Linked DNA regions of Homo sapiens. The protein of the gene in region 1 interacts with the protein of each later gene in a biochemical or structural test. Each region holds a gene or a part of one and is shown on either strand. Other genes may lie near its edges. The genes, in order: CSF3R and PTPN11.

Region 1 (3,815 bases):
TTGACCCTCCAGTGGACAGCTCTGAGAAGTGTTCTACATGGCTCTTTGGAAGGTTCCAGCAGGATAGAGCCCCAGTTGTCCATAGAGGTGACCAACATGATGATGTAACTTTGTGCTGGCTTTCTCTCCTTCCCTGTTTCATTCTCCCCAGTCCCTTATCTGCTGCTAGGATCTTCTCAAAATAAACTACCAGCATGCAATTCCTCATCTCAGGTTCTGCTCTCTAGGGGTAGCCTAGCTTAGATAGCTGGGAAGGCGGAAGAATGCTCTTCCTCACTGCTCCTTTCCCTGCTCTTTCCTGGAAGGCAAGTATAATAACTGTGGCTGTCACTGTCATTTCCTATGTTCCAGGCACTGTGAAAAGCCCTTGACTTGCATCATTTTGTGTCTTCCTCTCAAAGTCCCATGCAGTATAGGCTGCTGTTACTTCCATTTTGCAAAGAAACGAAGGCTCAGAGAAGTCAAGCAACCTAGTCAAAGCTGCACAGTGACAGACAAGGATTAAGATCAGCTCTGACTCCAAAGCCCATGGTCTTAAACAACCCTTCTGCCTACAGGTGAACATCAAGTTGGTGCTATGGCAAGGCTGGGAAACTGCAGCCTGACTTGGGCTGCCCTGATCATCCTGCTGCTCCCCGGAAGTGAGTATGGCCAAGGATGAGGGTGCAGTGGGGAGGGGAAGCTACAAGGAGAGATATTGGGAATTTCCTTGCACTGCCACATGGCTCCTGGGATTCCCAGAGAATCCCACAAGATTCAAGTCTGAGCCACAGATGTGGGGTAGCTGGTCTCCCACCCACAGACTTCCACAGGCAAACCACCACCCAAGAGGAATGGTGAGACGACCCGGGCTGGTCATCCTGGAAAAGGCCAGTGAGGCGCAGATCTTGTCCGCAAATCTCTACCAAGCTGTCAGAAGCAACCCATGGGTCCTATGCAGCCTTGGTGGGCAGCAAAGGGATCAGGATGGAAGCTACAAGGGGACAGGTTTCATCCTGAAATAAAGAAGCCCAGGCAGAGCTTGGTTTCCAACCATGGAAACTCTGTCTTGAGAGGTAGAGAACTTCCCATCCCCAGGGGTATGCAAGCTAAAGCCAGGATTGATAAAGATGCTGTGCAGCAGGGGTTGGCAAACTTTTTCTGACAGTAATGTTTAGGCTTTGCAGGCCACATACTGTCTCTGTTCCTTGTTTGTTTGTTTGTTTGTTTGTTTGTTCGTTTGTGAGACAGGGTCTCCCTCTGTTGCCCAGGCTGGAGTGCAGTGGCACAATCGCAGCTCACTGCAGCCTCAACCTCCTGGGCTCAAGTGATCCTCCCGCCTCAGCCTCCAAGGTAGTGCAGGGCATGCCACCACACCCAGCTAATTTTTTTTTGTTGTTGTATTTTTTTGTAGAGATGTAGTTTTGCCATGTTGCCCAGGCTGGTCTCAAACTCCTGGGTTCCAGCAATCCACCTGCCCTGACCTCCCAAAGTATGGGGATTACAAGCATGACCCGCCACGCCCTGCCTATTGCATGTTTTTTGGTTTTTGTTTTTTTGTTTTTTGAGATGGAGTCTCACTCTCTTGCCCAGGCTGAAGTACAGTAGCGGGATCTCAGCTCACTGCAACCTCCGCCTGCCGGGTTCAAGCGATTCTCCTGCCTCAGCCTCCCGAATAGCTGGGATTACAGGCACCTGCCACCAGGCCCTGCAAATTTTTGTATTTTTACTAGAGATGGGGTTTCACCATGTTGGCCAGGCTGGTCTCAAACTCCTGACGTCAGGTGATCCACTCACCTCGGCCTCCCAAAGTGCTGGGATTACAGGCATGAACCACCGCGCCCAGCCCTGTGGCATGTTTTTATTTGGTTTTTGCTTTGCTTGTTTTTAACTCTTTTAAAATGTAAGAAACATCTTTAGTTGTTAGGCTATACAAAAATAGGCCACTCAAGCCCTGCTGTAGAGGGCAGAGCATCAGGTAGAGTTTTGAAGCAAACAACCTTGTAAAGTTTCTTCCAGCCTGAAATCCTGAGTCTGGGCCGGGCGCGGTGGCTCACGCCTGTAATCCCAGCACTTTGGGAGGCCTAGGCGGGTGGATCACAAGGTCAGGAGATCGAGACCATCCTGGTGAACACAGTGAAACCCTGTATCTACTAAAAATACAAAAAATTAGCCGGGCATGGTGCCGGGTGCCTGTAGTCCTAGCTACTCGGGAGGCTGAGGCAGGACAATGGCGTGAGCCCAGCAGGCGGCGCTTGCAGTAAGCCGAGATCACGCCACTGCACTCCAGCCTGGGCAGCAGAGTGACTCCGTCTCAAAAAAAAAAAAGAAATCCTGAGCCTGTGAAGCAGTAGAAGCCCTTTGTTGAGAATCATGAACTTGCTCTGTGACCCTGGGCAAACTGCTTCTCCTCTTAGGGCCTTCGCATCCCCATCAGTAAAACGGGCCTAAGAACACCTGAGAGAGGACAGAAAGCATTGCGGGCAAAGTGTATGTTGATTTGTTTGTTTATTTATTTATCAAAAAAAATTCATCGGCCGGGCGCAGTGGCTCATGCCTGTCATCCTAGCACTTTGGGAGGCTGAGGCGGGTGGATCACGAGGTCAGGAGATCGAGACCAGCCTGCCAGCATGGTGAAAACCCATCTCTACTAAAAATACAAAAAAAAATTAGCCGGGCATGGTGGTGCGTGCCTGTAGCCCCAGCTTTTCGGGAGGCTGAGGCAGGAGAATCGCTTGAACCTGGGAGGCGGAGGTTGCAGTGAGCCGAGATTGTGCCACAGCACTCCAGCCTGGGTGACAGAGCGAAACTCCTTCTCAAAATAATAATAATAATAAATATTCACCAAGGTCCTACTCTGTACTAGGCACTGGGAATACAGTAATAAGCAAACAGCCAAGGTCTGCTGGCCTCACAGAATTTATAGTCTAGCTGGAGTGATAGATAAGTAAATAATCATAAGACTCTATAATTATGAAGGATAATAAGAGCTTTGAGGAAGTACAGGGACCTTGGCCTCCTCCAGTTCGTTAGTGCCTGGTCTGGTTTCTTCAAGATGCCTAAGCGTTAACCAGGTGAAACAGGGGTGGGAGAGAGAAAGAAGAGTCCCTCCAAAAAGAACAGCATGCCGGGCACAGTGGTTCACATCTGTAGTCCCAGCACTTTGGGAGGCTGAAGCAGGAGGATTGCTTGAGCCCAGGAGCTCAAGATTAGCCTAGGCAACATAGTGAAACCCCATCTCTACCAAAAAAAAAAAAAATCAAAAAATTAGCAAGGTGTGCTGGCATGAACCTGTAGTCCCAGCTACTCAGGAGGCTGAGGTGGGAAGATCACTTGAGCCTAGGAGGTCAAGGGTGCACTGAGCCGTGATCGTGCCACTGCACTCCAGCCTGAGTGACAGAGCAAGAACTTGAAGAAAAAAAAGAAAAGAAAAAGAAAACCAAAACAAAACAACAACAACAAAAAAAAAAAAACAGCAGGGACAAAGATCCAGAGATTAGAAAGATTTTGGAGTTTTCAAAGAATAGCAAGAATGAGCCAGAATAGCTGGAGCTGAGAGACCGGTATAAGCTGGAACTGAGAGGGTCAGGCAGGGGCCAGGCCACAGGAGCTATTGAAGGATTTGAGTGTTTATCCTAATGATGGCAGCAAATACTCACATGCCAGACACTGCTCTAAATGCCTTCCATATGTTATCGCATGTAATCCTTCCAGCAACACTAAGGTAGGGACGATTTTTATCCCCATTTTACAGATGAGAAAACTGAGGCACAGGAAGTCTTAGAAATATACCAGGATCATGTAATTAATAAGCAATAGAACCAGAATTTAAACCT
Region 2 (3,815 bases), on another chromosome or scaffold:
AGAACACATGGACACAGGGAGGGGAACATCACACACACTGTCTGGGGATGGGGGCAAACTCCTGGATTCAAGTGGTCCACCTGCCTCACCCTCTCAAAGTGCTGAGATTACAGGAGTGAGCCACCACGCCCAGCCTATCATCACTTTTTCACTGATGCATTAAAGGGGAGGGAGAGCATTAGGACAAACACCTAATGCATGCAGGACTTAAAACCTAAATGATGGGTTAATGTGTGCAGCAAACCATGATGGCACATGTATACCTATGTACAAACCTGCACGTTCTGCACATATATCCCAGAACTTAAAGTATAATCAACAAAAATAATTTAAAAAAAAAAGAAATCAGTTCACTTAACTTACCAGAGTTATCAATTTGAACTCTGAAATTAAAGCCACCACATTTGGCACGTCAAAGCTGGAGGATCACTTGAGCCCAAGAGTTCAAGACCAGCCTGGGCAACACTGCAAAACCCCATCTCTACAAAAAAATACAAAAATTAGATGGGCATGGTATCGTGTGCCTGTAGTCCCAGCTACTCGGGAAGCTTAAGTAGGAGGATCACTTGAGCCCAAGAGTTCAAGACCAGCCTGGGCAACACTGCAAAACCTCATCTCTACCAAAAATACAAAAATTAGCCAGGCATAGGGGCATGTGCCTGTAGTCCCAGCTACTCAGTAGGCTGAGATGGGAAGATCACTTGAGCCCAGGGAGGACGGGGCTGCAGTAAACCGAGATCACGCCACTACACTCCAGCTTCGGCGACAGAGCGAGACCCTGTCTCAAAAAAAAAAAAAAAAAAGCCACCACAAGGTGTTTCTCTTTTACTCATACTCATTTGCTGCACTAAGGCTATAGATTGTTTCTAAAGACCCCAGTGCATGCTGGAAATCTTTCGAAGAAATTAGATCCTTTTGTTTCTCTGAGATTTTGCCACCAGTCCAAACCAAAAGAGCCAAATGGAGCGGCTAGCACATCCATTGACTACTCACTGCCAACTCCCTTCCCTCAGAACACAATGCTCTTCTGTTTCGAAGAAGCCCTCTCAGCAACTTGCTCCGTGTCAATCAATGGCCGAATTAAAAAAGGACGTCAGTTTCAAGTCTCTCAGGTCCAATTCCAAACACAAGAGCAACTTCTCCTCCACTAAAAATAGGATATAACAACTCACGTAAAAACAGTTTTTTAATAACTTACCTCAAATTCTTCCCAAAAGCCTTGTTTGACTTTATCTGTGGTCTCAGCTAATTTGCTTAGTTCTCGAACTCTGCTTTCTATTTCAGCAGCATTTATACGAGTCGTGTTAAGGGGCTGATCGAGTACAGCAGTTGATGTAAAATAAAGAAAATATTACAGAAAACGGTGTTAATGCAAAAAAAAAAAAAAAAACATGTCTATGTTGATATTCATAAAGGCACGGACAGAGGGTTCATAGGACCCTGTAATTCACAATAAAAGTTTTCAAATCGTTTCACCGTGTTTTCTGTTCAGCCAGAAAATGTATCTTTCTTCAGTCTTCACATACACTTTACTCTGCTGATATAAATTCAAGCCTATTTTTCTTTATGAATAGACCACATTATTTAGAGAGATTATATCATTTTCCACTATCATAAAGGTGAAATTTGAAATAGCAACAATGCCAAAGTGAATAAGTGAGGTTACCTAAAGGTAACCAGAAGTGGATCTATAATGAAAACTTGCTTTAAAACTCTGTACAGCCTTAGGCCAGATGCAGTGGCTCATGCCTATAATCCCAGCACTTTGAGAGGCTGAGGCAGGCAGATCACTTGAGGTCAGGAGTTCAAGACCAGCCTGGCTAACATGGTGAAACCCCATCTCTACTAAAAATACAAAAATTAGCTGGGTGTAGTGGCACCACCTATAATCCCAGCTACTCAGGAGGCTGAGGCAGGAGAAGCTCTTGAACCCGGGACGCAGAGGTTGCAGTGAGCCAAGAACACGCCACTGCACTCCAGCCTGGGCGACAGAGCAAAACTCCATCTCAAAAAAAAAAAAAAAAAAAAAGAACCTCTGTAATGCCTTTTACAGATAAATATGGGAATAATATAAATCTGGAATATGTTTCCAAGTACTATAGCGGCAGTCAGTGAGTGGAATCATAATAAGAAAAGATTTAGGGCCGGGCGTGGTAGCTCACGCCTGTAATCCCAAAACTTCGGGAGGCCAAGGCGGGCAGAAAACCTGAGGTCGGGAATTCAAGACCAGCCAGGCCAACATGGTGAAACCCCATCTCTATTAAAAACACAAAAACTAGCCGGGCATGGTGGTGGGCACCTGTAGTCCCAGCTACTCAGGAGGCTGAGGCAGGAGAATCGCTTGAACCCAGGAAGCAGAGGTTGTAGTGAGCCAAGATTGCAACACTGTACTCCAGACTGGGTGACAGAGTAAGACTGTCTCAAAAAAAAAAAAAAAAAAAAAGATTTGATAGTTGAAGCTGCAATGGGTACATGGAGGCTGATGATACTATTCTGTCTACCTCTGTATGTTTGCAAAATTCTCTATTAGGATTTGTTTTAAGTTTTTAAGGAGAAAGCTTGAGCTTTCCAATCTGCTCACCTGCTTGAGTTGTAGTACTGTACCCAATGTTTCCACCATAGGATTCTTCTTATAATGTTCCACAAGATCTGTCAAAGAATCAAACCGTTCTCCTCCACCAACGTCGTATTTCAGTTCCTTTCAAGATAAACACATGACATTTATTATTTGTTACCTTTATGTTACATTAGTGTTTTCAAGCACTCTCATGTTCACTGCAGCATTATTCACAATAGCTAGTATATAGAGACAACTTAAATGTCCATCAAAAGACAGATAATAGGCTGGGTGCAGTGGCTCACGCCAGTAATTCCAGCACTTTGGGAGGCCAAGGCGGGCAGATCATTTGAGGTCAGGAGTTCGAGACCAGCCTGGCCAACATGGTAAAACCCCATATCCACTAAAAATACAAAAATTAGCCAGGCTTGGTGGTGGACACCTGTAATCCCTGCTACTCAGGAGGGTGAGGCACGAGAATCACTTGAGCCCAAGAGGCAGAGGTTGCAGTGAGCCAACTGTGCTTCAGCCTGGGAGACAGAGGGAGACTCTGTCTCAAAAAAAAGATAAATAATAAAAATGTGGTGTGTGTATACAAATATACTAAAAGTGTAAATATACTCAATATACTCAAGTATGATAAGTATAATAATATATTAAATATGCTAATATACTAATACAGTAACTATACTAATATATTAAGTATAATAAAAGCATAGACGAACTTGACTAAGTAAGCAAAGAAAATCTGACTTTGGATCAGGCACAGTAGTTCACATCTGTAATCCTAACACTTTGAGAGGTTGAAGGAGGCAGGCCTCTTGAGCACTAGTTCAAGACCACACTGGGCAATGCGGCAAAACACCATCTCCACAAAAAATACAAACACTAGCTGGGCATGGTGGCACACACCTGTAGTCCCAGCTACTCAAGAGGCTGAGGGAAGATCAACTGAGCCCAGGGAGGTTGCACTCCAGCCTGCGTGACAGAGCAAGACCCAGTCTCAAATGAATAAACAAATGAATATTAAAAAAACAAAAACAAAAAAAAAAAAAAAACAGAAAATCTGACTTTGAATGTAATGGTGTTTGTCCTCTTCCAGCAGAAAAATCACCCAAAGATTTGGGTCACCAGACCCAACGTGGTGAAACCCCATCTGTAGGTGATAGAGCAAGACCCTGTCTCAAATAAATAAATAAATAAATAAATAAATAAAAGACAATCTGACTTTGAATGTAATGGTGTCTGTCTTCTGTCA

Evidence for each region.
Region 2: the proteins of CSF3R (region 1) and PTPN11 interact in far-western blotting, tested with the Homo sapiens proteins (one study listed by BioGRID).

Annotation. Positions count from the first base shown.
Region 1 is NC_000001.11:36,476,259-36,480,073, reverse strand, and holds part of CSF3R (granulocyte colony-stimulating factor receptor isoform a precursor), read left to right. Parts: exon of another isoform or gene 1-87; intron 88-557; 5' UTR 558-577; coding exon 578-641; intron 642-3,815. UniProt on the Homo sapiens protein: Receptor for granulocyte colony-stimulating factor (CSF3), essential for granulocytic maturation. Plays a crucial role in the proliferation, differentiation and survival of cells along the neutrophilic lineage.
Region 2 is NC_000012.12:112,453,447-112,457,261, reverse strand, and holds part of PTPN11 (tyrosine-protein phosphatase non-receptor type 11), read right to left. Parts: intron 2,699-3,815; coding exon 2,582-2,698; intron 1,313-2,581; coding exon 1,199-1,312; intron 1-1,198. UniProt on the Homo sapiens protein: Acts downstream of various receptor and cytoplasmic protein tyrosine kinases to participate in the signal transduction from the cell surface to the nucleus. Positively regulates MAPK signal transduction pathway. Dephosphorylates GAB1, ARHGAP35 and EGFR.